3 separate regions of the Homo sapiens genome follow, and all the other regions are linked to region 3. Evidence: fine-mapped expression QTL. A gene starts in region 3. Each other region holds a variant in brackets. All regions are shown on one strand. Distances are from middle to middle.

Region 1 (8,180 bases), 54 kb after region 3:
CGGAGTCAGGTGATTTGGGTGGTGCTGGGAGTCCTGGTGCCGGGAGGTCGTCCACATTGAGTGTGACAGGGGAGGGGCACAAGGGTGGAGGCCGAGGGTGGGAGACAAGCAGGGACCAGTGCAGGGGACTGAGAAGGTATCATTAGGGGGAAAAATGAAACCAGATGACAACAGCACCCAGACACGAGGGAGGACAGAGCTTCGAGGAGCGACACGAAACACTGCAGAGAGTACAAGTTCAGAGGAGGCCCGAAAACTGCCCCGTGAGGACCTCAAGAAGAACAGTGGGCAGACATGAGAATGCAGAGAGAAGACGACAGAGGCTCCCTCCTGAGAGTCTGGACTTACAAATAAAAAAGAATCCATATCTCAAGAGAAGATAAAGGATAAAGAGCAGGGTTTCAGTGGCAGTGGATGTTCTCCTCAAATGGGTGTGATGTGAGCTTGTCTATAAGCTGAAAGAATGGAGCCTGTGCAGAAGCCAGATTGCAGGCTTGATCGGTGGGTCCTTGGAGGGAGACGGAAGGCTCTAGAACCTTCAGGAAGGGGGCCAGCAGCCTTTTCCTGTAAAGGACCAGAGAGTACATATTTTAGGCTTCTGCTGGGGTCTGTCTCAGCTCCTCGCCTCTGCTGTTGGAGCACAAAAGCCATCATAGATAATGGGAAAATGGGAGTTGAAGATGCAAGGAACTGGATGTAGACAGTCTGGATGTGAGATAGTGGGGGGAGGTCAGCACAGGGAAGGAGTTGTGGGGTAGAAGGAAGTGGAAGAGACAGCATGGCAGGGGCATGGCTGAGAGCCAGGAGGTGCAGAGGCGGTGTCAGAAAAGGGGGACAAAAGAGTTGCAATTTTAGAATGGAATCTTGCAAGGAGAAAAGTACAGAGAAAAAAATGTACTTTGAGGCTTTCTCCCAAAGGCATGTGTGTGGATGTGTGAACACAGGCTCCCCCCCATCACTTTTTACTACAAGAATCGTTGTTTTTGTCTAGTGGGAGGAGTCAACATTCAATTTAATAGAAAAATGTATGGAGTAAGAAAATGACGTGTCTTCTGAGTGGTTTTGGCCATTCTTCTCATATTATCCTGCGTCAGGTGGTGTATGTGTGTGCATGTATGTGTGTCTGCATGTGTACTTTTGTGTATACATGTATGTACATGTGTTTGTGTGTGTGTGTTTGTGTATATGTGTATGTCCATGTATATTTGTGTATATGCATACGTGGGGAGTGTATACATGCGTCTGTGTGTGTGTGACACTCTCATGTCCACTCCTGGGGGACAGATATCCACTCCTGGGGGACAGAGCACCAGCTGCTGCTCGGCCTCTAGCTTGGTATCCAGTTACCTTTCACTCCAATGTGTTGGACTTTAGGGCACCCCATAACCTAAGGAGAATTTCCATTTCCTAGAAACCAAGTTTTGTGGTGTTGAAGTTATTGCTAGAAGCAGTGGAATCAGGTTGCCTGCCAAAAGAGTATTTGCTGGGTGAAAGTGTCATGAAGACTTGGTGGTTTTTTAATTCAAAATTCACCCTGAATTTGGTATATTATTGATGGCAGTTAAAATCAGACCACATCAGAGATGAGGTAACCATACTTTAGTTTGGACAATTTTTATATTAATAGTCAAATCAAGGCCAGGCGTGATGGCTCACACCTGTAATCCCAGCACTTTGGGAGGCCGAGGTGGGAGGATTGCTTCAGTCCAGGAGTTCGAGATCATTCTGGGCAACATAGCAAGACCCCTGTCTCTACAAAAAATTAAAAATTAGCCGGGCGTGCTGGTGCTCACCTATAGTTCCAGCTACTCGGTTGGCTAAGGCGGGAGGGTCACTTGAGCCAGGGAGGTCGAGGCTGTAGTGAACTATGATCGCATCACTGCACTCTAGTCTGGGTGACAGAGCAAGACTCTGTCTGAAAAAAAAAAAAGTCAGGTTTCTAAAGGGGAAGGAACGGGTGTTTCCACTGTTAAGACGGGGGTCCCTGGCTTAGGGGAGGCCTTGTCAGCGCAGCCTGCTCTCAGCCTCTGAAGATTAGAACCTGCGACTTAAGGGCCTACTGGGTGTCTGCACTCCCCCATCCCCCTTCCAGTCTGCAAACAGCCCTTTCTCAGGCCAGTTGTCAAGGGCTTGGTTCTGATCCTTTTCTAGAGAAAGGAGGGAAAGTTTGGCTCCTGAGAAGAAAACAGGAACAGAAGCCCAATTCTTACGAAAAGAAAAAGGAATTTGAATTCTGAAGATACTTGATTTCAGAGAAGCTCGGAGCCAGCTCCAGTCCTTGAAAGCCCATTGCTACAAGAGGAGAAAAAAAAAAAACCCAAAAGTGAGGAATGACGGGCACCCCCGTGGCTTAGGCACGGAGGGAACGATGGTTGCCCTTGGTGTGCATTGAAGCCTGCTGCTCTGGAATGTGTGGGTAGCCTTCAGAGGGTCCTGTTCATTTATTTCACACTCCTTGCCTGGCTGAATTGTCATGATTTTGCATCCTGCCTACTCTCCTTTTTCATCTTCCTGTTCTCACCCTGTCTACAGGCCTGTTTTACTCGGGGGCTGTTTGTCCAGACCCCTTCTTAGACATCACAAATCCATTTTGAACAGAGGTCCTTCTGCGCCCCAGGGGACACTGGGCAATGTCTGGGAACATCTGTGGTTGTCACAACTGGGGGTGCTCTTGGCATGGAGTGAGCGGAGGCCAGGGATGCTGCTCAGCACCCTGCAGTGCTCAGGACGGCCCCAGCCCAGAGATGGATCCGTCCCCAATGTCCACAGTGCCAAGTGGGGACACACACTGTCATCTTTGGTGATTATCAGGGCAGAGTAATAACTCTTGGCACTGAGAACCAACTGGGTCCACAGGGAGTAATCCTGGTGCCAGAAAGGACATGGTTCCACCATCAAGGAGGGTTCGAGAATCCACTTTTCGGCAAGGAGATGGCTTGGAGGTGTCCTCCCTGTGCGTGGGGCCAGGCCACACAAGCCTGAACAGTGAGGACAGAATCTTAAAACACGCATCACTTACTCCGAGGACCTGGCCCTCAGAGGGGAGCCGGGAGAAGGAAACGGACAAGACTTTTCTGGGCAGCCTAATGACACTGGGAGTGTTAAGACAAGCTACCAGGACAGAATCTGGGCTTTGAAGCAACTGGTACTCCTGAGAGCACTCCGGGCTTGTTCCTTCTTGTTCAGAGGGAGGAAATTAATTGCTTTCTTAGGGCAGATGAACTCTGGTACCATCTGGAGGCCAGCGAGTACCAGGAGAGGAGGAGCTGATGGCCGGAGGAGGCCACGTGCCTCCCAAACACCGAGGCTCATCAGCCAATCAGAATGAAGGTAACTAAAACCACTCAGCTAACTCTGCCCCAATTATCACCAAAGATGACAAAACATTGTCTAAATACTGATCTGAACTATGTGAGGCAGGTGACAGCTCCATTTGGCATATGGAGGAACAGGAATAGAAGAGAGATTGCTTAAGGTCGCAGTGAGTCAGCGGCTCAGCCAGGAACGGGCCCAGAAATTGCTCTCAGCGTTTTCTGCATTTCCTTTCCTGACATTGCTGGTTACTAGGTGATGGGAGTATTTTTCTGTAAACAGAAGCCTCTTCCCTTTGTGCCCAGGCAGATTCATT[C/T]ATCACGGCCGTAGTCCAGGGCTGCTTCTAGCTGCGTCTCTCCTGTGCCCCCTCACATGAAGTCAGGAAGCCACGGGAGATGTTCCCACTGGCGCGTTTGACTCAGCAGTGGCTCCAAAAGGTCAAGTGCGCATCTGGTTCACTTGAATGTTCGTTCAAGGTCAAATGAGCGTTTCGTGGATTCCAAAGGCTGGTGCCGGCCAAGGAGGGGAAATTGCGCCGCTGGTTCTGTGCTTTTCCCCTTTATTTCATGCCCGCCCTGATCTTGGACCAGATGGTAAATGAAACGTGCTCAGCTTATAAACAGCACTCCGGGCATATTTCTGAGGCACGAGGGAGGGAGCTTTGGGCCAGCCAAGCCCGTTGGCCAGGCAGGGCCAGGCTGGGTGACAGGTCGTGTTGCGGCCCCTCCCCTTTATATTGGCTGTTCCGAGGCTCCTGTAACCCAGTCTAAGAGGACACAGGGGAAGGCAGTCAAAGTAAGACTGCCCAGGTCCTCGCCACAGGAAGAAAAACAGAAGAGAGGACAAAGGAACGCGAGAAAGCAAGGACGGCAGGGCAGTCACTGAATGGGTCCAAGTTCCCACAGCAGATTCAGGTTCAGAGAAGAAGCATGGCCTCCACTCACTCACATCTACTGTCTTGCACTGGATTGAGGGGTTCCCAAACTGGGTGCTGCAAAGGTGCTCCACAGTGTGCGTCCCTGTGCCCTGTGGACTTTACCTTGAGTACACCCACGCCCTCGGGGCCCTGCCCTCTGCCCACTCTCTGCTGCGCTCTCCTCTGCCAGGTGGAGGAGTTACTCAGGATCCAGCATCACCCCTTCTGGGAGGACCATGTGAGCTACTGCGCTTACCTGGAAGCACCGCCAGGATCATGAGCCACTCCTGCTCATCGCTGGTGTCTTGTGTGTGTGTTTGTTTAACTCCTTATCATGGAAATTTCAAACATCCACAAAGTAAATACACAATGCAATGAAACTTATGAAGCCACCACCCTCTACAGGGTGTCAGGGTCCTGCCATTCTTATAACACCTGGATACCTGTACCCACTCTCCGTCCTCCTCTCCACCCTTGTATTTTTACAGGCTTCGTTGTCATTGTTAAAATTCACATACAGTAAGTGCACAAACCTTAGCTGGCTAATTTTGACAAATCACGACTCCATGTAACCGCACACTGTATTATCATACAGAATGCGTCCATCTCACTGGAGTGTCCCCTCCTGTCCCTTTCCAGTCACTCTCGCCCACCGCCACCTGCCCCCCCACCCACTATTATGATTTTTTTTTAACTTTAGTTTTAATCCACTCTACTCATCTACTCTTTTGGACTCAACTTCTTTCACTCAGCGTAATGATTTTGAGATTCATCCATGCATTGTGAATTTCAGTAATTAATTCCTTTCTATTCATGAAGAGTATTCCAGTAGTATTCCTCTATTAGCTTTTTAGCTATGCTCTTCTTTTCCATTTTTAGTGGTTGTTTTAGGGTTTTCAATATGAATCTTTAAATCATCATAATCTGCAATTTCTCGTCCACTCTCCTGATGAGGAACATTTGGGTTATTTTTACTTTTTGGTGACTGAATCAAACTGCTATGAATAAGGCTGAGGTGGGCAGATCATTTGAGCCCAGGAGTTTGAGACCAGCCTGGGCAACATGGTGAAACCCTGTCTCTACCCAAAATACAAAAATTAGCCGGGTATGGTGCTGCGTGCCTGTAGTCCCAGCTACTTAGGAGGCTGAAGTGGGAGAATCGCTTGAGCCTGGGAGGTTGAGGATGCAGTGAGCTGTGATTGTGCCACTGTACTTTATCCTGAGGGAGACCCTGTCTCAAAAACAAAAAACAAAAACCAACAAACAAAAAGCTGCTATGAACATGCTTATACAAGTTGTTATTATTTTTTTGAAGAGATATGTCTTCATGTCTCTTGGATAAAAACTACAAGAGGAATTCTGGGTTAAAGGGCAGGTTTAACTTTCTAGAAAACTGCCAAACCTCTTTCCAGTGTGGTCATATCATTCATATCTACACATGGGGGTGTGTGAGAGTTTTAGTTGCTCCATGTACTTACAACATTGGATGTTGTCAGACTTGTCAGGTTTAGCCATTCTAGTGAGTATTTAGTGATATCTTGATATAGTTTGAATTTGCATTTCCCTAGTGACTAATGAGGCTGACCACTATTCATGTACTTTTGGGCATCTGTATATCTTGCTTTGTGAAGTACCATTTTTTTAAGTTATTTGTCATCTTATATTGAATTGTAGGAGTTTATATATATAGATATAGATGTAGATATATTAGGATCAAAGCCCTTTATGAGATACATGTTTTGCAAATATTTCTCCCAGGCTGTGGCTTACCTATTCATATTCTTAGCAAAATCTTTTAATGAGCAGAGGTTTTAAATTTTGGTGAAATCTAATTTCTCAAGTTTTTCTTTTATGCTGATTTGTGCATTCTAAGAAACCTTTGTCTAACCTCCTATGTTCTCTCTGAGAAGTCTTATAGTTTTAGCTTTTGTGTGTAAGTAAGTTCATGTTCTAACTTGAAATCATTTTTATGTATGGTGTGAGGTAGGGGTCAAGGTTCATTTATTTTCCCCAATATGGATATTCTGTTGATCCATCACCATTTGTTTAAAAGACTTCTTTCTCTGTTGAATTGCCTTGACACCTTTGTGAAAATCCAGTTGAGGAAGAAAAGAGCTGAGGCTCCATTAGAAAAAAAAATCAATTGATAATCTAAGTGTGGGTTATATTATTTATATATTGTTGAATTTGATTTATTAATATTTTAAATTATTTTTGCATATATGTGCATAAGAGATATTAGTCTAAACACTTTCCTTGTAATATATTTGTTAAGTTTTGGTGTCAGGGTTTACTGACCTCATAAAATGAGTTGTGAAGTATTCTTTTTTTATTTTCTGATGGCATTTGTGTAATAATTCCTTTTTCAGTATTTGATAGCATTCACCAGTAAAACTATATGTGCCTGAAGTTTTCTGTGTAGGGAAGTTTCCAATAACATATTCAATTTTTTTGTTATATGTATTACATTCACATTTTTTTATTTCATCTGTGTCAGTTTTGTTATGTTGTGTTTTTAAAAAAGTGTTCATTTTATATGTTATTGAATTTATGGGCTAAAGTTGTTTGTAATAGTTCTCTATTATCATTTTGATTTCTGTAGAATCTCTAGTGATATATTTCATTTCATTCCTGATATTGGCAATTTGGGTTTTCTTTTCTTATCAGTCTTTCCAGGAGAAGTTGTTAATTAACTTTTTTTAAATACTTGCTTTTTTTTTTTTTTTTTTTTTGAGATAGAGTCTTGCTCTGTCACCCAGGCTGGAGTGCAGTAGTGCAATCTCAGCTCACTGCAACCTCTGCCTCCTTGGTTCAAGCAATTCTCCCACCTCAGCCTCCTGAGTAGCTGGAATTACAGGTGCCCGCCATTACACATGGCTCATTTTTGTGTTTTTAGTAGAGACAGAGTTTCACCATGTTGGCCAGGCTGGTCTCAAACTCCTGACCTCAGGTGATCCACCCGCCCTCGGCCTCCCAAAGTGCTGGGATTACAGGCATGAGCCACCATGCCTGGCCAAGACTTGCTTTTTTAAAGAGCAGTTTTAGGTTCACAGCAAAATTGACAGGAAAATACAGAGATTTCCCATATACCCCATACCTCCACACATGCACAGCTTCCCTCATTATCACCATCACCCACCAGAGTTGTACATTTGTTACAGTTGATGAAATCTGCATTAACACAGCATTTTCACCCAAAGTCCATAGTTTCCTCGAGAGTTCACTGTTGGTGTTGTACATTCTATGGTTTGGACAAATGTATAATGACATGTGTCCACCATTATAGTGCCATACAGAACAGTTCCAGTGTCCTAAAAATCCTCTGTGCTTTGCCTACTCATCCCTCTCTCTGATACCTGGCAACCACTGATCTTTTCATTGTCTTCATAGTTTTGCCTTTTCCAAAATGTTGTTTAATTAGAATCATACAGTATGTAGCCTTTTCAGACTGGCTTCTTTCACTTCATAGTATGTGTTTAAATTTCTTCCATGTCTTTTCATGGCTTGATAGCTCCTTTCTTCTTCTGAAAAAATTTCAGTTTTGAAGAAATATTGCTTTTGTTCATTTTCTCCATTGTTTGTGGAGTTTCTAATTTCATTAATTTTGTTCTTTATTGTTTTTCCTTCTTTCTATTAAGTTTAGTTTGTTTGTCTTTCTATATAGCTTTTTAAGGTTGAAAACGTTCTTAAATCTTTCTAACATAAGCATATAAAGCTAAACATCTCTTTCTAAGCACTGCTTTAGGTGTGCCCACTTTTTTTTCTTAATAATTTTACTTCTTTTTTTCACCCACAATATTTGTACCAGTGCCCACAAATTTTGATACAAAGTGTTTACATTATAATTCAGTTCAAAATATTTTCTATTTTTCTTTGGGGTTTATTATTTGACCCATGGATTATTTTGAAGGTGTATTTTAAGTTTTCTAAATATTTGGCATTTTTCTAACCT
Region 2 (8,180 bases), 320 kb before region 3:
CTCAGGTGATTTGCCTACCTCAGCCTCCCAAAGTGCTGGGATTACAGGTGTGAGCCACCGTGCCTGGCCTAATTATTATTACTTCTTTTTTGTGGAAATAGGATTTCATCATGTTGCCCAGGCTCATCTCGAACTCGTGGGGTCAAGGAATTCGCCAGCCTTCAGCCTCCCAACGTGCTGGGATTACAGGTGTGAGCCACATGGTCCTTGGTGTTCCTTGGTTTATGATAGACTCATCACTCCACTGCCTGCCTATCTTCATACTGTATGCTCCCTTATGTGTGTCTGTGTCTCTCTGCCCAAATTTCCATCCTTTTTTTCAGATGCAGTTTCGCTCTGTTTCCCAGGCTGGAGTGCAATGACGTGATCTCAGCTCACTGCAACCTCCGCTTCCCGGGTTCAAGTGATCCTCCTGCCTCAGCCTCCAGAATAGCTGGGATTACAGGTGCACACCACCACAACTGGCTAATTTTTGCATTTTTAGTAGAGACGGGGTTTCACTATGCTGGTCTTGAACTCCTGACCTCAAGTGATCCACCCGCCTCGGCCTCCCAAAGTGCAAATTCCAAGTTTGTTTTTTTTTTTTTTTTTGGAGTGCAGTGGCACGATCTCGGCTCACTGCAAGCTCCGCCTCCCGGGTTCATGCCATTCTCTTGCCTCAGCCTCCCAAGTAGCTGGGACTACAGGCACCCGCCACCACAGCCAGCTAATTTTTTTTTTTTTTTGTATTTTTAGTAGAGATGGGGTTTCACCATGTTAGCCAGGATGCCTCCCAAAGTGCTGGGATTATAGGCATGAGCCACCGCGCCCGGCCTTTTTTTTTTTCTGAGATGGAGTCTTGCTCTGTCGCCTAGGCTGGAGTGCACTGGCGCGATCTTGGCTCACTGCAAGCTCCGCCTCCTGGGTTCATGCCATTCTCCTGCCTCAGCCTCCCAAGTAGCTGGGACTACAGGCACCCGCCACCATGCCCAGCTAATTTTTTGTATTTTTAGTAGAGACGGGGTTTCACCATGTTAGCCAGGATGGTCTTGAACTCCTGACCTCGTGATCCGCCTGCCTCAGCCTCCCAAAGTGTTGGGATTACAGGCGTGAGCCACTGCGCCTGGCCGATTCCATGTCTTGTAAGGACAGCAGTCATCGGATTAGGGCAACCCCCCCCAATCCAGTGTAACCTCATTTTAATTTGATTATATCTACAAAGACCGTATTTCCAAATAAGGTCACATTTGCAGGTTACTGGGGTTAGGGCTTGAACACATCTTTTTGGGGGACAAAGTTCAACCCACAATGAGTAATTCAAATTTATTGTGGAAAAAATAGAAAATTCAGGGTGGGTGGGGTAGCTCATATCTGTAAACCCAGCACTTTGGGAGGTCGGGGTGGGAGGATCGCTTGAGGCCAGGAGTTTGAGACCAGCCTGGGCAACACAGTGAGACCCCATTTCTACAAAAAATTTTTCAATTAGCTGGGCATGATGGCATATACCTGTAGTTCCAGCTGCTCAGGAGGCTGAGATGGGAGGATGACTTGAGCTCAGGAGTTCAAGGTCACTTGAGCCCAGGAGTTTGAGACCAGCCTGGCCAACATGGTGAAACCCCGTCTCTACTAAAAATACAAAAATTAGCCGGGCATGGTGTCACATGCCTGTGATCCCAGCTACTCGGAAGGCTGAGGCAGGACAATCACTTGAACCCAGGAGGTGGAGGTTGCAGTGAGCCAAGATTGGTCCATTGCACTCCAGCCTGGGTAACAGAGCAAGACTCCATCTCAAAAAATAAAAAAATAAAAGATTGGGTGCAGTGGCTCACGTCTATAATCCTAGCATTTTGGGAGGCCGAGGCGGGTGAATCACCTGAGGTCAGGAGTTCGAGACCAGCCTGGCCAACATGGCAACCCCGTCTCTACTAGAAGTACAAAAATTAGCCGGACGTGGTGGCGGGCACCTATAATCCCAGCTACTCAGGAGGCTGAGGCAGGAGAATTGCTTGAACCTGGGTGGCAGAGGTTGCAGTGAGTCGAGATTGTGCCACTGCACTCCAGCCTGGGCAACAAGAGCAAAACTATGTCTCAAAGAAAAAAAAAAAAAGACACTGTCGCTGCCATCCTGGTTATTGGTTACATGCTCTCTCTCTCTCTCTCCCCCTTTCTCATAACATTTGCTCTGGAGGAAGCCGGTGGTCATGCCATGAGCAGCCTTATGGAGAGGACCATGTGGTAAGGAACTCAGCCAATAGCCATGTAACTGAGCTTGGAAGAGGATCTTGCTGTCCTGGCCAACATCTCACTGCAATTCTATCAGTTGAATTCCCTGGATAGTCCAAGCTTTGTGGATCCCTCCACCGAAACAACTGGATCCCAGTACCTGAATCCTGAATCTTAGACTCTTATACTTCAAACACTGATCACGGGAACAGCCGGCTCAGCGGCTCCTGAGTTCCTAATGCTCAGAATATGGGTGAGATGATAAATGTTTGTTGTGTTAAGCTGCCAACCTTTGGCGGGGGGGTAATTCGTCACATGGCAACAGCTGGCTAATACATATATACCTACATGTATATGATTTTGTCAGGTTTTTTGTTTGTTTGTTTGTTTGGTTTCGGTTTTGGTTTTTGAAACAGGGTTTCACTCTGTCCCCTCCCCAGGCTGGAATGCAGGGGTGCAATCATGGCTCACTGCAGCTTCAAACTCCCAGGCTCAGGTGATGCTCCCATCTCAGCCTCCGGAGTAGCTGGGACCACAGGCACACACCACCATGCCTGACTACTTTTTTTGTTTTTTAGAGACTGGGTCTTACTCTGTCACCCAGGCTGGAGTGCAGTGGCACAATCATAGCTCACTGCAGCCTCTAATTCCTGTGCTCAAGGGAGCCTCCCCCTTCAGCCTCCCAAGTAGCTGGGACTACAGGTGCACATGACCACACCTGGCTAATTTTAAAAAATTTTTGTAGAAAAATTTCTTGCTTTGCTGCCCAGGCTGGTCTTGAACTCCTGGACTCAAGTGATCCTCCCGCCTCAGCCTCCTGAGTAGCTGGGATTACAGGTATGCACCACCACACCCAGCTAATTTTCGTTATTTTTAGTAGACACGGGGTTTTATCATGTTGGCCAGGCTGGTCTCAAACTCCTGACCTCAGGTGATCCACCTGCCTTGGCCTCCCAAAGTGCTAGAATTACAGGTGTGAGCCACCACGCCCAGCCAAAAATAATTTTTAAAACTTAGCCGGGCGTGGTGTCCGCACCTGTGTTCCTAGCCACTCGGGTGGCTGAAGTGGGAGAACCACCTGAACAGAGAGGTCAAGGGGATTGACCTTAAGTGTGCCACTATACTCCAGCCTGGGTGACAGAGTGAGACCATTTCCCATCAGCTGTTTAGCAACCTTAATTCTTTTTTTTTTTTTCTTTTTTTTTTTTTTGAGACAGGGTCTCGCTCTGTCACCCAGGCTGGAGTTCAGTGGCAAGATCTCAGCTCACTGCAGCCTCCACCTCCCAAGCTCAAGCAACCCTCCCACCTCAGCCTCCTGTGTAGCTGGGACCACAGGCATGGACCACCATGCCCAGCTAATTTTTGTATTTTTTATAGAGACAGGGGTCTGGCCATGTTGCCCAGGGTGGTCTTGAACTCCTGGGCTCAAGTGATCCACCTGCCTTGACCTCCCAAAGTGCTGCTATTATAGGAATGAGCCACGGCGCCCAGCCTAGCAAAGTTTTGTTGTTGTTGTTGTTTGTTTGAGATGGAGTCTCGCTCTGTTGCCCAGGCTGCAGTGCAATGGCTCAATCTCGGCCCACTGCAACCTCTGTCTCCTGGGTTCAAGCAA[T/A]TCTCCTGTCTCAGCCTCCAGAGTAGCTGAGATTACAGGGGCACACCACCAAACCTGGCTAATTTTTGTATTTTTAGGAGAGACTGGGTTTCACTATGTTAGTCAGGCTGGTCTCGAACTCCTGACCTCAGATGATCTGCCAACCTCGGCCTCCCAAAGTGCTGGGATTACAGGCGTCAGCCACCACATCAGGCCTAGCAACCTTATTTGTATCTGCAAACTTAATTCCCCTTTGCCATGTAACAAATGTAAGTCAGCCCAGGCTGCTATAAGGAAACACTAAAGAGCGGGGTCTTAAACTGCAGACATTTATTTCTGGAGGCTGGGAAATCCAAGGTTAAGGTGGCTGGCTAGCTCAGTTCCTGCTGAGGGATTTCTTCCTGCCATGCCTTCTTGCTGCGTCCTCCCATGGCAGACAGAGAGAGAGAAAGAGCTCTGGTTTGTCTTTTCCTTATAGGGAACTAATTCCATCTTGCAGGGGCCATCCTCATGAGTTCATCTAACCCTGAGGACCTCCCAAAGGCCCTGTCTCCAAATTCCAACCCACTGGGAAATAGGGCTTCAACATAAGAATTTTGCGGCCGGAAGCAGTGGCTCACGCCTGTAATCCCAGCACTTTGGGAGGCTGAGGTGGGCAGATCATGAGGTCAGGAGATCGAGACCATCCTGGCTAACACGGTGAAACCCCGTCTCTACTAAAAAATAAAAAAATTAGCTGGGCGTGGTGGCGGATGCCTGTAGTCCCAGCTACTCGGGAGGCTGAGGCAGGAGAATGGTGTGAACCCCAGAGGCGGAGCTTGCAGTGAGCCAAGATAGCGCCACTGCACTCCAGCCTGGGAGACTGAGCGAGACTCCGTCTCAAAAAAAACGATAATAATAATAATTTTGACAGGACACAATTCAATTTATAACGATAACATATTTATTGGTTTGGGGGATCAGGAGGTGGATACTTGGGGGAAGGGGGCCATCACGCTGCCCACCACACCTAGGAAGGTCACAGGGGCGTTTGTGACTTCATCCTCCTCTTGGTCCCCCACACAATCCTCCCACTAGACACTCCCGCATGGTAGCTGGAGCAGCAAACAACTGCTTAGGGATTTGAAGCCAGGTGTCCTAACTTCCTCCATGGGCGCTCAGCCTGGGGAACCTCAGAACACTTGCTCTAGGATCCAGACACTGTTTAGGAGGGTCAAGACCTTACTCATCAAAGCCCCGCCTCCCCCCCAACCTCCGCCTCCACCCCCATCCTGGAACCCTGGCTGTACACACGTGTATGGGTACGCGTTTGGCCACATGCATGACAACAACCTTGAACATCTCCCGTCACAGCAGGTGAGTTTAGGAAACACCAGTGTCCCGGCACCTCTGGTCAGGACTACAGGGAGAGGCCAGGCTACCCACGCCCTCTACAGGCCCACTCCCCTGCTAGCGGACCTAGAATTCCACCTTGAAGCAGGGTGGGGCAGGGAGGCAGGGCGCGATGGCTCCACACATGTAATCCCAGCACTTTGGGAGGTTGAGGTGGATGGGTCACTTGAGGACAGGAGTTCAAGACCAACCTGGCCAACATGCCGAAACCCTATCTCTACTAAAATTACAAAACTTAGCCAGGCATGGTGGTTGGCGCCTGTAGTACCAGCTACTCAGGAGGCTGAGGCAGGAGAATCGCTTGAACTCAGGAGGTAGAGGTTGCAGTGAGCCCAGATCTCATCACTGCACTCAAGCCAGAGCAACACAGCGAGATTCTGTCTCAAAAAATAAGAATAAATTAAGAGTCTAGATATAGTCCTAATTACATTTGTATTCCTCCTTGGATCCTCCATGAGTAACTTAGAGAGTCTATATTACATTGGCTGGGTGTGGTGGCTCACACCTGTAATCCCAGCACTTTGGGAGGCTGAGGCAGGTGGATCACCTGAGGTCAGGAGTTCAAGACCAGCCTGGCCAACATGGTGAAACCCTGCCTCTATTAAAATAATACAAAAATTTGCTCGGCACGTTGGCACTGTAATCCCAGCTACTGGGGAGGCTGAGGCAAGAGAATCACTTGAACCCAGGAGGCGGAGGTTGCAGTGAGCCGAGATCACACCATTGTCCCTACTTGGGAAGCTGAGACACGAGAATCGCTTGAACCAGGGGGACAGCGGTTGCAGTGAGCCAAGATCGCACCACTGTACTCCAGCTTGGGCGATAGAGTGAGACTCTGTCTAAAAAAAAACAAAAACAAAACAAAAAAAAACCAGGGGGGAGGGTTGAATCACTTGAGGTCAGGAGTTAGAGACCAGCCTGGCCAACATAGTGAAACCCATCTCTACTAAAAAAAAAAAAAAAAAAAAAAAAAAAAATTAGGTGTTGTGGTGCATGCCTATAATCCCAGCTACTCAGGAGGCTGCGGCAGGAACTGCTTGAACCTGGGAGGTGGAGGTTGCAACGAGCTGAGATTGTGCCACTGCACTCTAACCTGGGCAGCAGAGCAAGACTCCGTCTCGAAAAAAAAAAATGCAGACTTGGGGGAACAGGGTGGGTCTTTCACCAGGTGGGTGCCCTAGATGTGTGTCTGGGGAAGGTGCCCCAACCTGGCTGAGGATGAGGGAGGGCCGGGTCTGCCCTGCAGGTACTGGACACAGGAGAGCAGCTGATGGTCCCCGTGGAAGTCCTGGAAGTGGATAACAAGGAGGCCTTGTGGAAGTTTCTACTCTCAGGAGCTATGGCCGGGGCGGTGTCTCGCACGGGCACGGCACCTCTGGACAGAGCCAAGGTGTACATGCAGGTTTGTGTGGGTTGGGGGGAGGACGGGACCCAGCGCTGGAGCCACTGGGGAGAACGTGGGGTGAGGACAGATGGAGTTGACGTGGATGGAGTTCAGGATAGGAGTGCTGGCTGGAGTTGGGCTCTCCTGGACTAGCTGAGATTGAGGTTGTGGATGGTGATAGAGCTGGTGTGGACATGGCTTGGAGTCGAGTTTGAGGAGTTGAGAGAACTTGCCAGGGACAGGGACCAACGCTGGGCCAAGGTGGGGGTTGGAGGTCAGGGAATTGGGGATGGGGTCTTTGGACGAGTTTAAAGACAAGGTAGGGGCCAGGTGCAGTGGCTCATGCCTCTAATGCCAGCACTTTGGGAGGCCCAGGGGAGGTAGATCATCTGGGGTCAGGAGTTTGAGACCAGCCTGGCCAACATGGCGAAACCCTGTCTCTACTAAAAATACAAAAAAATTAGTCGGGCATGGTGGTGCGTGCCTGTAGTCCCAGCTACATAGGAGGCTGAGGCAGGAGAATTGCTTGAACCCAGGAGATGGAGGTTGCAGTGAGCCGAGATTGCATCACTGCACTCCAGCCTGGGCAACAGAGTGAGACTCTGTCTCAAAAAAGAAAGAAAAAAAAAAAAGGCAACATAGAACTGGAGCTACCTCAAGCAGGATATCTCACACCCATAGTCTCAGCTGCTCAGGAGGCTGAGGCAGGAGGATTGCTTGAGCCCAGGAGTTGGAGGCTGCAGTGAGCCATGATCATGCCACAAACTCCAGCCTGGGTGACAGAGCGAGATCCCTGGCTGAAAAAATAAACGGGTGCAGTGGCTCACTTTGGGAGGCCAAGGAGGGAGGATTACTTGAGCTTAGGAGTTTGAGACCAGCTGGGCAATATAGTCAGACCACATCTCTACAAAATAATAATTAATTAATTAATTAATTAAAAATTTAAAAAGGAGTCGGGCATGGTGACTCACACCTGTAATCCCAGCACTTTGGGAGGCCAAAGTGGGAAGATCGCTTGAGCCCAAGAGTTTGAGACCAGCCTGGGCAACATAGTAAGACCCCATCTATACAAAAAATTTTACAAAATTAGCCTGCCATGGTAGCACGCACCTGTAGTCCCAGCTACTTGGAAGGCTGAGGTGGGAGGATCACTTGAGCCCAGGAGTTTGGGGCTGCAGTGAGCTGTGATTGCACCACTGCATTCCGGCCTGGGCAACAGAACAAGATCCTGTCTCGAAAACATAAACAAACAAAAAAACAAGAAAGAAAAGGAAAAGAAGGCCAGGCGCGGTGGCTGATGCCTGTAATCCCAGCAATTTGGGGGGCCAAGGTGGGCAGATCACCTGAGGTCAGGAGTTCCAGACCAGCCTGGCCAACATGGCAAACCCCCAGCTCTACTAAAAATACAAAAATAAGCCAGGCGTGGTGACACTAGCCTGTAATCCCAGCTACTCGGGAGGCTGAGGCAGGAGAATCGCCTGAACCTGGGAGGCGGAGGTTGCAGTGAGCCGAGATCCCCCGACCGCACTCCAGCCTGGGCGACAGAGTGAGACTCCGTCAAAAAAAAAAAAAAAGAAGGAAGGGAGGAACGGAGGAAGGGAGGGAGGGAGG
Region 3 (8,180 bases):
CACCCCTGCTTAAAACCCTCCATGGGGGCCGGGCAAGGTGGCTTACGCCTGTAATCCCAGCACTTTGGGAGGCCAAGGGGGCCGGATCACTTGAAGTCAAGAGTTTGAGACCAGCCTGACCAACATGGTGAAACCCCATGTCTACTAAAAATACAAAAATTAGCTGGGCATGGTGGCGTGCACCTGTAATCCCAGCTACTCGGGAGGCTGAGGCAAGAGAATCGCTTGAATCCAGGAGGCGAAGGTTGTAGTGAGGTGAGATCGTGCCACTGCACTCCAGCCTGGGTGACAGGCGACTCCATCATAAAAAAAAAAACAAATTAAAAAAGAAAATGCTTTGGAATTAGATATAGGTGGTGGTTGTACAACATAGTGAATGTACTAAATGCCACTGAACTGTTTCCTTTTAAAATGGCTCATTTTATGGTATGTAAATGTCACCTTAATTTACAAAAATGTGCCGCACAAAAGCAGGACTCTAAGAATTTGCCACCTGTTGGCTTGTCTTTTGCTACTCTGTGCTTGTCTTTTGAGATAACTGGGGCCACAGTTTCCGCCTCTGGCCAGGGCTGGGAGCGGGAAGAGGTCTAGCTTAGCTAAACGGGTTGACCAGCAGTTCCAGGACAGGCGGTCACCTTACTCCCCGAGGCTACAACTTGAGATCGCACCACTGCACTCCAGCGTGGGCCTGGGCGATACAGCAAGACTCCAGCTCAAAAACAAACAACAACAACAACAACAAAAGACACCCTCCATTGGTTTCCCAGTCTGATCGTGACTTCTTCCCTACGGCCTCCAATAAAATGATGGCCATCATATCATCCCCTGACTCACTCACCCCACCCACTCACTGCTCTTCCCCTTTCATTGGCTCCAGCTGTGCCCAAGGACCTGCTTTCTGTTTCTTCCACATCAGCTTTCACCCCAGGGATTTCGAATTCCAAACTATTTTCCTTTGTTCCTCGTTACTCCAACGTTGCCTCAAATGTCAGCTCCTTAGAGAGACCCAGGGTGACCAACTCTTCCCGCTTTGGGGATTTCCCGGTTTTAGCACTGAAATTCCCATATCCTGGGAAACCCCTTAGTCTTGGGCCAAGCAGGATTGTTGGATATCCCAGGGAGATCATCTCTGGCTGCTCTATCTAAGGTAAGCCCCACCCACCCACTTCTCCCACCAAGCCACTACTGTATCACTTTTCCTATGGCCATGGGAATTTTATCTATTTTATTTACACCTGTGTCCCTAGCACCTAGCAAATAGTAGGCGCTATCTATCTATCTATCTATCTATCTATCTATCTACCTATCTATCTATCATCATATACTATATATATACACACATATATGTGTGTGTATATATGTGTGTGTATATATATAAATGTATATATATATATATTAGAGACAGGTTCTTGCTCTGTCTACCAAGCTGGAGTTCAGAGGCACAGTCATAGCTCACCACAGCCTAGAACTCCTGGGCTCAAGCGATCCTCCCACCTCAGCCTCCTGAGCAGCTGGGACTATAGGTGTGCACCACTGCGCCTGGCTAATTTATTTTATTTTTATAGAGATAAGGTCTCACTATGTTGCCCAGGCTGGTCTTGAACCCCTGGCCTCAGACGATCCTCCTGCTGAGTCACTGCACTTGGACCTCAATAAATATTTTTGACTAAATTAATAATTGAATGAAAGGGACTGATTACTGTAGACCACTTGAGCTTAAGAATCTGTCACATGGCCAGGCGCAGTGGCTCCTGCCTGTAATCCCAGGACTTTGGGAGGCTGAGGCGGGTGGATCACTTGAGATCAGGAGTTTGAGACCAGCCTGGCCAACACGGTGAAACCCCGTCTCTACTAAAAATACAAAAATTAGCCAGGCGTGGTGGCGCGTGCCTGTAACGCCAGCTACTCGGGAGACTGAAACAGGAGAATCACTTGAACTCGGGAGGCGGAGGTTGCAGTGAGCCGAGATCATGCCACTGCACTCCAGCCTGGGCGACAGAGACTCTGTCTCAAGAAAAAAAAAAAAATTAGAAGATGATGAAATCAATTTAGCAAATCACCGTCAACATTTTAATTAAAATGAAACAGAACAGGAAATATCAGAGTGCGTTAAAGTATCATTTCACGGTACTTTAGTTACAGTATCATTTGTTTTAGTTATAGATATGTTTGTGTGGACTGAGCCCCTAGGTAAAATGTATTTCCTGCTGTATGCTGTGGTCAAAAATGTTTGAAAACCACCCATCTAGTGATCAAGAGCATGGACTTTGGCACTAGACTACTAGGGTTCCGATCCCTCACAAGCTGTTTGACACTGGGCAAATTCACTCATTCTTTCTGGGCCTCAGCTTCCTGATCTGAAAAATGGGGAAAGGCCGGGCATGGTGGCTCATGCCTGTAATCCTAGCACTTTGAGAGTCCAAGGCGGGCGGATCACTTGAGGTCAGGAGTTCCAGGCCAGCCTGGCCAACATGGTGAAACCCCGTCTCTACTAAAAATACAAAAATTAGCTGAGCGTGGTGGCGGGCGCCTGTAGTCCCAGCTACTTGAGAGGCTGAGGCAGGAGAATCACTTGAACCCGGGAGACAGAGGTTGCAGTGAGCGAGCCAGATCGCACCACTGCACTCCAGTCTGGGTGACAGAGAGAGACTCTGTCTCAAAAAAAAAAAAAGAAAAAACAAAACAAATAAAAACGGGGATAATGCCTAGCATCTTTCTAAAGATGCGATTGTAAGATTTAATGAGTTTGCATATTTAAAAAATGCTTAGATCACTTTCAGGCACATAGCAATTTAATCAGTGCTCACTAATATGATTTCTTGTTGAATGAATGAGTGGGGCTGAAGCCTAATCTCCTGCCTTTTCTCAGTACAAGTTGTTTTCTCCTATTCTTCCAGCCCCTTGTCTCGAATAACTATATGTTTACCTCTTTATTCTGTTTGCTGTCAATGTTCCCTCACTAGAATAAAAGTTCTATGAGGATCTGTCTGTTTCTGTCCTACTCGTAGCTGAATCTACCAGCTTGAGAGGAGGGCTGGTGAGTTTGGCAAACATTTTCTGTAAAGGACCGTATAGTAAATATCTTAGGCTTCGCGTGGGACATGCCGTCTTTGCGCAACTACTCCACTCCGCCCCTGTAGTGTCAAAGCAGCCTTCCAAGCTGTTCAAGGAAATGGGCGTGGCTATGTTCCAATAAAGCTTTATTTACAAACCCAAGCAGGCAGAATTTGACCCGCAGGCCGCAGTTTGCCAATCTTTAAACTAGTTCAAAATACTGGGCCCAATACAATAAAAGAGAGTCTCCTATCAGGTTCACACCCCACAAAAGCTCCTTTTGATAGTTTCTTTTTTTTTCTTTCTTTCTTTTTTTTTTTTTTGAGACGGAGTCTCGCTCTGTCGCCCAGGCTGGAGTGCAGTGGTGCGATCTCGGCTCACTGCAAGCTCCGCCTCCCAGGTTCGCACCATTCTCCTGCCTCAGCCTCCCAAGTAGCTGGGACTACAGGCGCCTGCCACCACGCCCGGCTAATTTTTTGTATTTTTAGTAGAGACGGGGTTTCACCGTGTTAGTCAGGATGGTCTCGATCTCCTGACTCCGTGATCCACCCGCCTTAGCCTCCCAAAGTGCTGGGATTACAGGCGTGAGCCACCGCGCCCGGCCGATAGTTTCTTTTAACCATGTAAAAAATATATATATATTTAAATTTTCAGCTGGGGGTCCGTGAAAAACAGGCGGCGAGCGAGAGTTTGCTGACCCCTGATCAGACTGTTCCCACATGTCCCACACTCCTCCTGTGGGGTAAACGGAGTCCCTTGGGTCCCCTAAAACTGGACTTTCCCAAAACGCGCCACCAACCCACGGCGCCGCGCGCGCGACCGGTTCGCCAACCCTCTGAGCCGCGCGCGCCTCCCGCCAAGACCCGCCCCTCTTCGCGGCCATTGGCCGAGTCTCGCACTCTTTTTCAAGGGGGAACGCCTCCTCCTTCCGACAGACTCTGCAGACAGCCAATGGAACGCCGTAGGGTCTCGCGCCCCGCCCTCTTGGGGGCCCGTTGGAGGCGAGCGTGGGCGGGCCGTTAGGAAGGTGGGGCGCGGAGCCTGGTAACCGTTGCCGGTAACAACGCCCCGCCCCGTCGGGCGGGCGGGCTGCGCGAGGCTGGCTGGCGGCGGGAGCCGGAGGAGGAGCGGCCGCCGCCGCCACCGCCGCCGCCATAGAGACTGTAGCCGTGGAGACTGTTACTTACCAACGGGGACCAACACGCAGCAGCCGCTGCCGCCGCCGCGGGAGCCGCTGCCCGAACTCCCGGCCCGAACTCCAGGTGACCGATGCGACCGCCCCGGGCCCAGCCCGGCCGGGGAGTGTGGGGGGCGGCGGGGACCCCGTTCGGGGGCCGGGGGGCGGGCAGCACGTCCCCGCCGCTCACCCCAAACGTCCGGGTGGTGCGCCCGCGGGACCCGCCTCCGCCACCCCGTCCGCGCGCGCGGCGGAGTTTGGGGGGACCCTGGCGACGTCCCCACTTTCCTTATTGACTGAACGCGGGGGAGGTGCGGTGCCGTCGCCTCACTTTTTACAAAACTTCCTGAGGTTGGGGCGTCCGGGGACCCCTTTCTCACGCTTACCTTCAAACTCGCTGAGTTGGGGGCGCCCCGGGAACGTCTCTCAAACTCCTCAAACTCCCTGAATTGGGGGCGCTTGGGGACCCTCTTCTCACCTTAACCCCCTAGATCTCTGAGTTGGGGGCACCCAAGGACCCCTCTTTTACTCATACCCTCGAATTTTCTGAATTGGGGGCGCCAGGGGACCCTCTTCTCACGTTTACTCCCCAGATCTCTGAGTTGGGGGCACCCAGGGACCCTTCTTTTACTCAAACCCTCGAATTCTCTGAATTGGGGGCGCTTGGGGACCCTCTCCTCACTTTTACTCCCCAGATCTCTGAGATGGGGACACCCGGGGACCCCTCTTTTACTCATACCCTCAAACTCCCTGAATTGGGGCCACCTGGGGCCCTCTTCTTACTTTACTCCCCAAACCTCCGAAATTGGGGTGACCCCAGAGCCCTTCTGTCACTCTTAGTCGCAAACTTCTTGCATCGGGGGGACCTCGAAGACTCCCTTCTCATTTTTACCCCAAATTCCTAGATCTGACTTGTCCCGGGGACCCCCTTTTTAATGGACTCCCAGACATACTGAATTTGGGGGCACCCCTGGAACCTTTTTCTCATTCCTTAACTAAAAGCTGGTGCGTCTGCCCTGGGGAGAACCCCTCTTGCCCTTCTCACCTTTTCATCCCAAACTCCCCGAGCGAGCTTCCCCGGGAACTGTTTCTCACCTTTTTGCCCCAAATCCTCGCGTTCAGGTCGCCTCGGACACCCCCTCCCCTTCTCCCTGTGACCCCATATTCCTGAGTATAGGGGTTCGTGCGTCCGCCAGTCTTTCCACGTGCCCCCAAGATGCCCCTCCGCACGTCCGCAGCTCTCCTCTTAGGACTGATCTGGAAGGGAGAAAAGTTTCACCAACGCGAGTGAAACTTTTTTTTTTTTTCAATTTATTTATTTTGTTAAAGAACCTAAACTGCTCCAGGCATTTTCTCCGAGGTAGTGCGAGTGCGTGTGTGTGTTTGTGGATTTAAACTCCACCCCCTGCCCCCACCGCCCACCAGCGCGCTCGCGGGCGCACACACACACTCACACACACACACTCACTCACACCCCAAATGCTCATTTCTTTCTTTTTCCTCCCTCCGAGAAGCCTCCGCGCTCCCTCGCCACCAGCCTCCGGCTCCGTTCCTTTTGGTTTTCCTCGCTGCACCGCTGGGAAAGTTGGATTTCCCGATCCTAGTGGCTATTTCAAGGGCCCCCGAGGGCCCCAAGCGCCCGGGCCATTCTGGCGGCTGCCGGCGCGGTTCATCTTCCTATTTTAACCTCCTGGTTGTGCGGCAAGAATGGGGAGGGGAGAGGGCAAGATGGAGCTCGGGACCCAGGGCTGGCTGCCTTACCCCCGCCCCCCCAGGCTTCATTCCTACTTTGGGGTGTTGTTAGCATTGTGCCTCCCTGCAATTATTTTCCTGCTTTGTATCATAAATGACCAGCGCAGGCTTCGATGAGTTCTTTTCCCTCTCAGTCAGCTTCATCTCTGTATCAAACCTTGTACAAGCTTCATTCTCTGTTTCAACTAAGAGTTCCCCAACAAAGTAACAGTAATAATAATAATGACACAAAACAACAAAGACTTTTTAAAAAAATTTTTGCCTGTACATATTGTTGACATGTATTTTATCTTTTTACATCGTGCCCTGAAACATTGTTTGCTTATGGAAAGATCCTTACCTCCCGTCCTTCTGGATAAGGAGGAGGGGGGCATCTGTGCTTTCTCCTGCTCTAGTTTAAAGACTTGAACTGACTCTAAAATAACCTTAGAAACGACAACTCACCTACTCTGACCAGAGAAGTAAGAGTTTATGGTAACCTCCCTAGGAAAAGAATTTAAGTTCTTGAATTACTAGGGCTTCTTCATCAACAGGCGTGGTACGGAAGGCAACTTATAATGTATGATGGGAAAGATCACTGTTCTGTGATTCTGTGACAGTTCAACGGACTTGGGTTGGGAATGAGTTCTGAAATAGTTTGCTCCTGCAGGAAAAGCAATACTGAAATATTTTAGTTTTTTAAGTTCTTTCTTATAAACCACTGAATCTGAGAAGAGAGAGACAGTTATTACCTCAATAACAGGACAAGTTCTTTGAAATCACTTGATCTTTGCTTTCTGCGTGAAGGGCACGCATTACCTTAATGTATGTGTGATGTATATTTAAATACAACAATATAATATAATGTGTATGTGATGTATATTTAAATGTAAATACTCATCTTTTAACATTGTTTATCATTGAAGTACTGCTAAGGATGGTTCTGTCCACCAGAAATGCAGGTGCTGGGGAATTGTTTATCTGGGTCTTATTCCTTAGATCTAATTGTTTAGTTTTACATTAGCATTATAATTAATAAAAATATTAAATTGGCTTAACTTTAATATTATAATCGAGTCAAAATTTTAAATGCACCTGTGGATTTTTTTTTTTTTTTTTTTTTTTTTTTTGAGACAGGGTCTCACTCTGTCACCCAGACTGGAGTGCAGTGGCAAGATCTCAGCTCACCTTAACATGCACCTCCCAGGCTCAAGGGATTCACCTGTCTCAGCCTCCTGAATAGCTGGGATTACAGGCATGCACCCCCACACCCGGCTAATTTTTGTATTTTTAGTAGGGATGGGGTTTCACTATGTTGGCCAGGCTAGTCTCAAACTCTTGACCTCAAATGATCCAACCGCCTTGGCCTCCCAAAGTGCTGGGATTACAGGCGTAAGCCACCAAACCCGGCCCCTGCACCTGTGGATTTTTGTTTGTTTGTTTGTTTGTTTGAGACAGAGTCTTGCTCTGTCTCCCAGGCTGGAGTGCAGTGGCACCATCTCGGCTCACTGCAAGCTCCACCCCCGAGGTTTACACCATTCTCCTGCCTCAGCCTCCCGAATAGCTGGGACTACAGGCGCCTGCCACCACGCCCGGCTAATTTTTCGTATTTTTTAGTAGAGACGGGGTTTCACTGTGTTAGCCAGGATGGTCTCGATCTCCTGACCATGTGATCCGCCCACCTTGGCCTCCCAAAGTGCTGGGATTATAGGCGTGAGCCACCGCGCCCGGCCGGCACCTGTGGATTTTTATAGTAGCTAGTGATTGTTTTGCTCATAAAATGCTGGGGCCAGAAGGAACCACATCTTATAATATATATTTGTTTCTAAAGTTGACATCTATTTATTAAATATTTAAATATTTTTAAAATATATATTGAAATATTAAAACATGTATATATAATATATACTTATATATTTAAATATAATAAAATTTAAATATAAATATATGTTAAATATAAAACAAATATATTTAAATATTTACAAACATTTAAACAGTATACCCCCATAGGTACCCACTTACTTGTAAAATAGGAAACTTTTGAAAAACCAAGGGAAGTTCTCATCTTGCTTGTCAGGACACTCACTAAACTGCAGGGGAGGAGAATGCGAGTCTGTGGGCCTGTCTCTGAAACTATGGGTCCAGGGCATTCCCACTAAACACAGCCGTATTTCTGAACTGAACTATATGAATATTCACCCGAAGTGGGGAAGAGAAG

The links.
Region 1: its variant is fine-mapped to the expression of RFX2 in whole blood (TOPMed, PIP above 0.99).
Region 2: its variant is fine-mapped to the expression of RFX2 in whole blood (INTERVAL, PIP 0.95).

The regions. Positions count from the first base shown.
Region 1 is chr19:6,052,736-6,060,915 of GRCh38, reverse strand. All of the region lies in intron 1 of RFX2 (regulatory factor X2), which reads left to right. Among named protein-coding and RNA genes, the nearest start is that of RFX2-AS1, 5.8 kb to the left of the region's middle. The variant C/T (reference allele first, on the strand shown) is at 3,629.
Region 2 is chr19:6,430,456-6,438,635 of GRCh38, reverse strand. It overlaps SLC25A41 (solute carrier family 25 member 41), which reads left to right and starts at 4,873. Exons shown (of 7, transcript NM_173637.4): 1 at 4,873-5,149; 2 at 6,432-6,587. The coding sequence starts at 4,943. It also overlaps a transcript of SLC25A23 not described here. The variant T/A (reference allele first, on the strand shown) is at 3,815.
Region 3 is chr19:6,106,529-6,114,708 of GRCh38, reverse strand. It overlaps RFX2 (regulatory factor X2), which reads left to right and starts at 4,209. Exons shown (of 18, transcript NM_000635.4): 1 at 4,209-4,316. RefSeq lists a silencer at 3,888-4,347 and an enhancer at 5,195-5,695.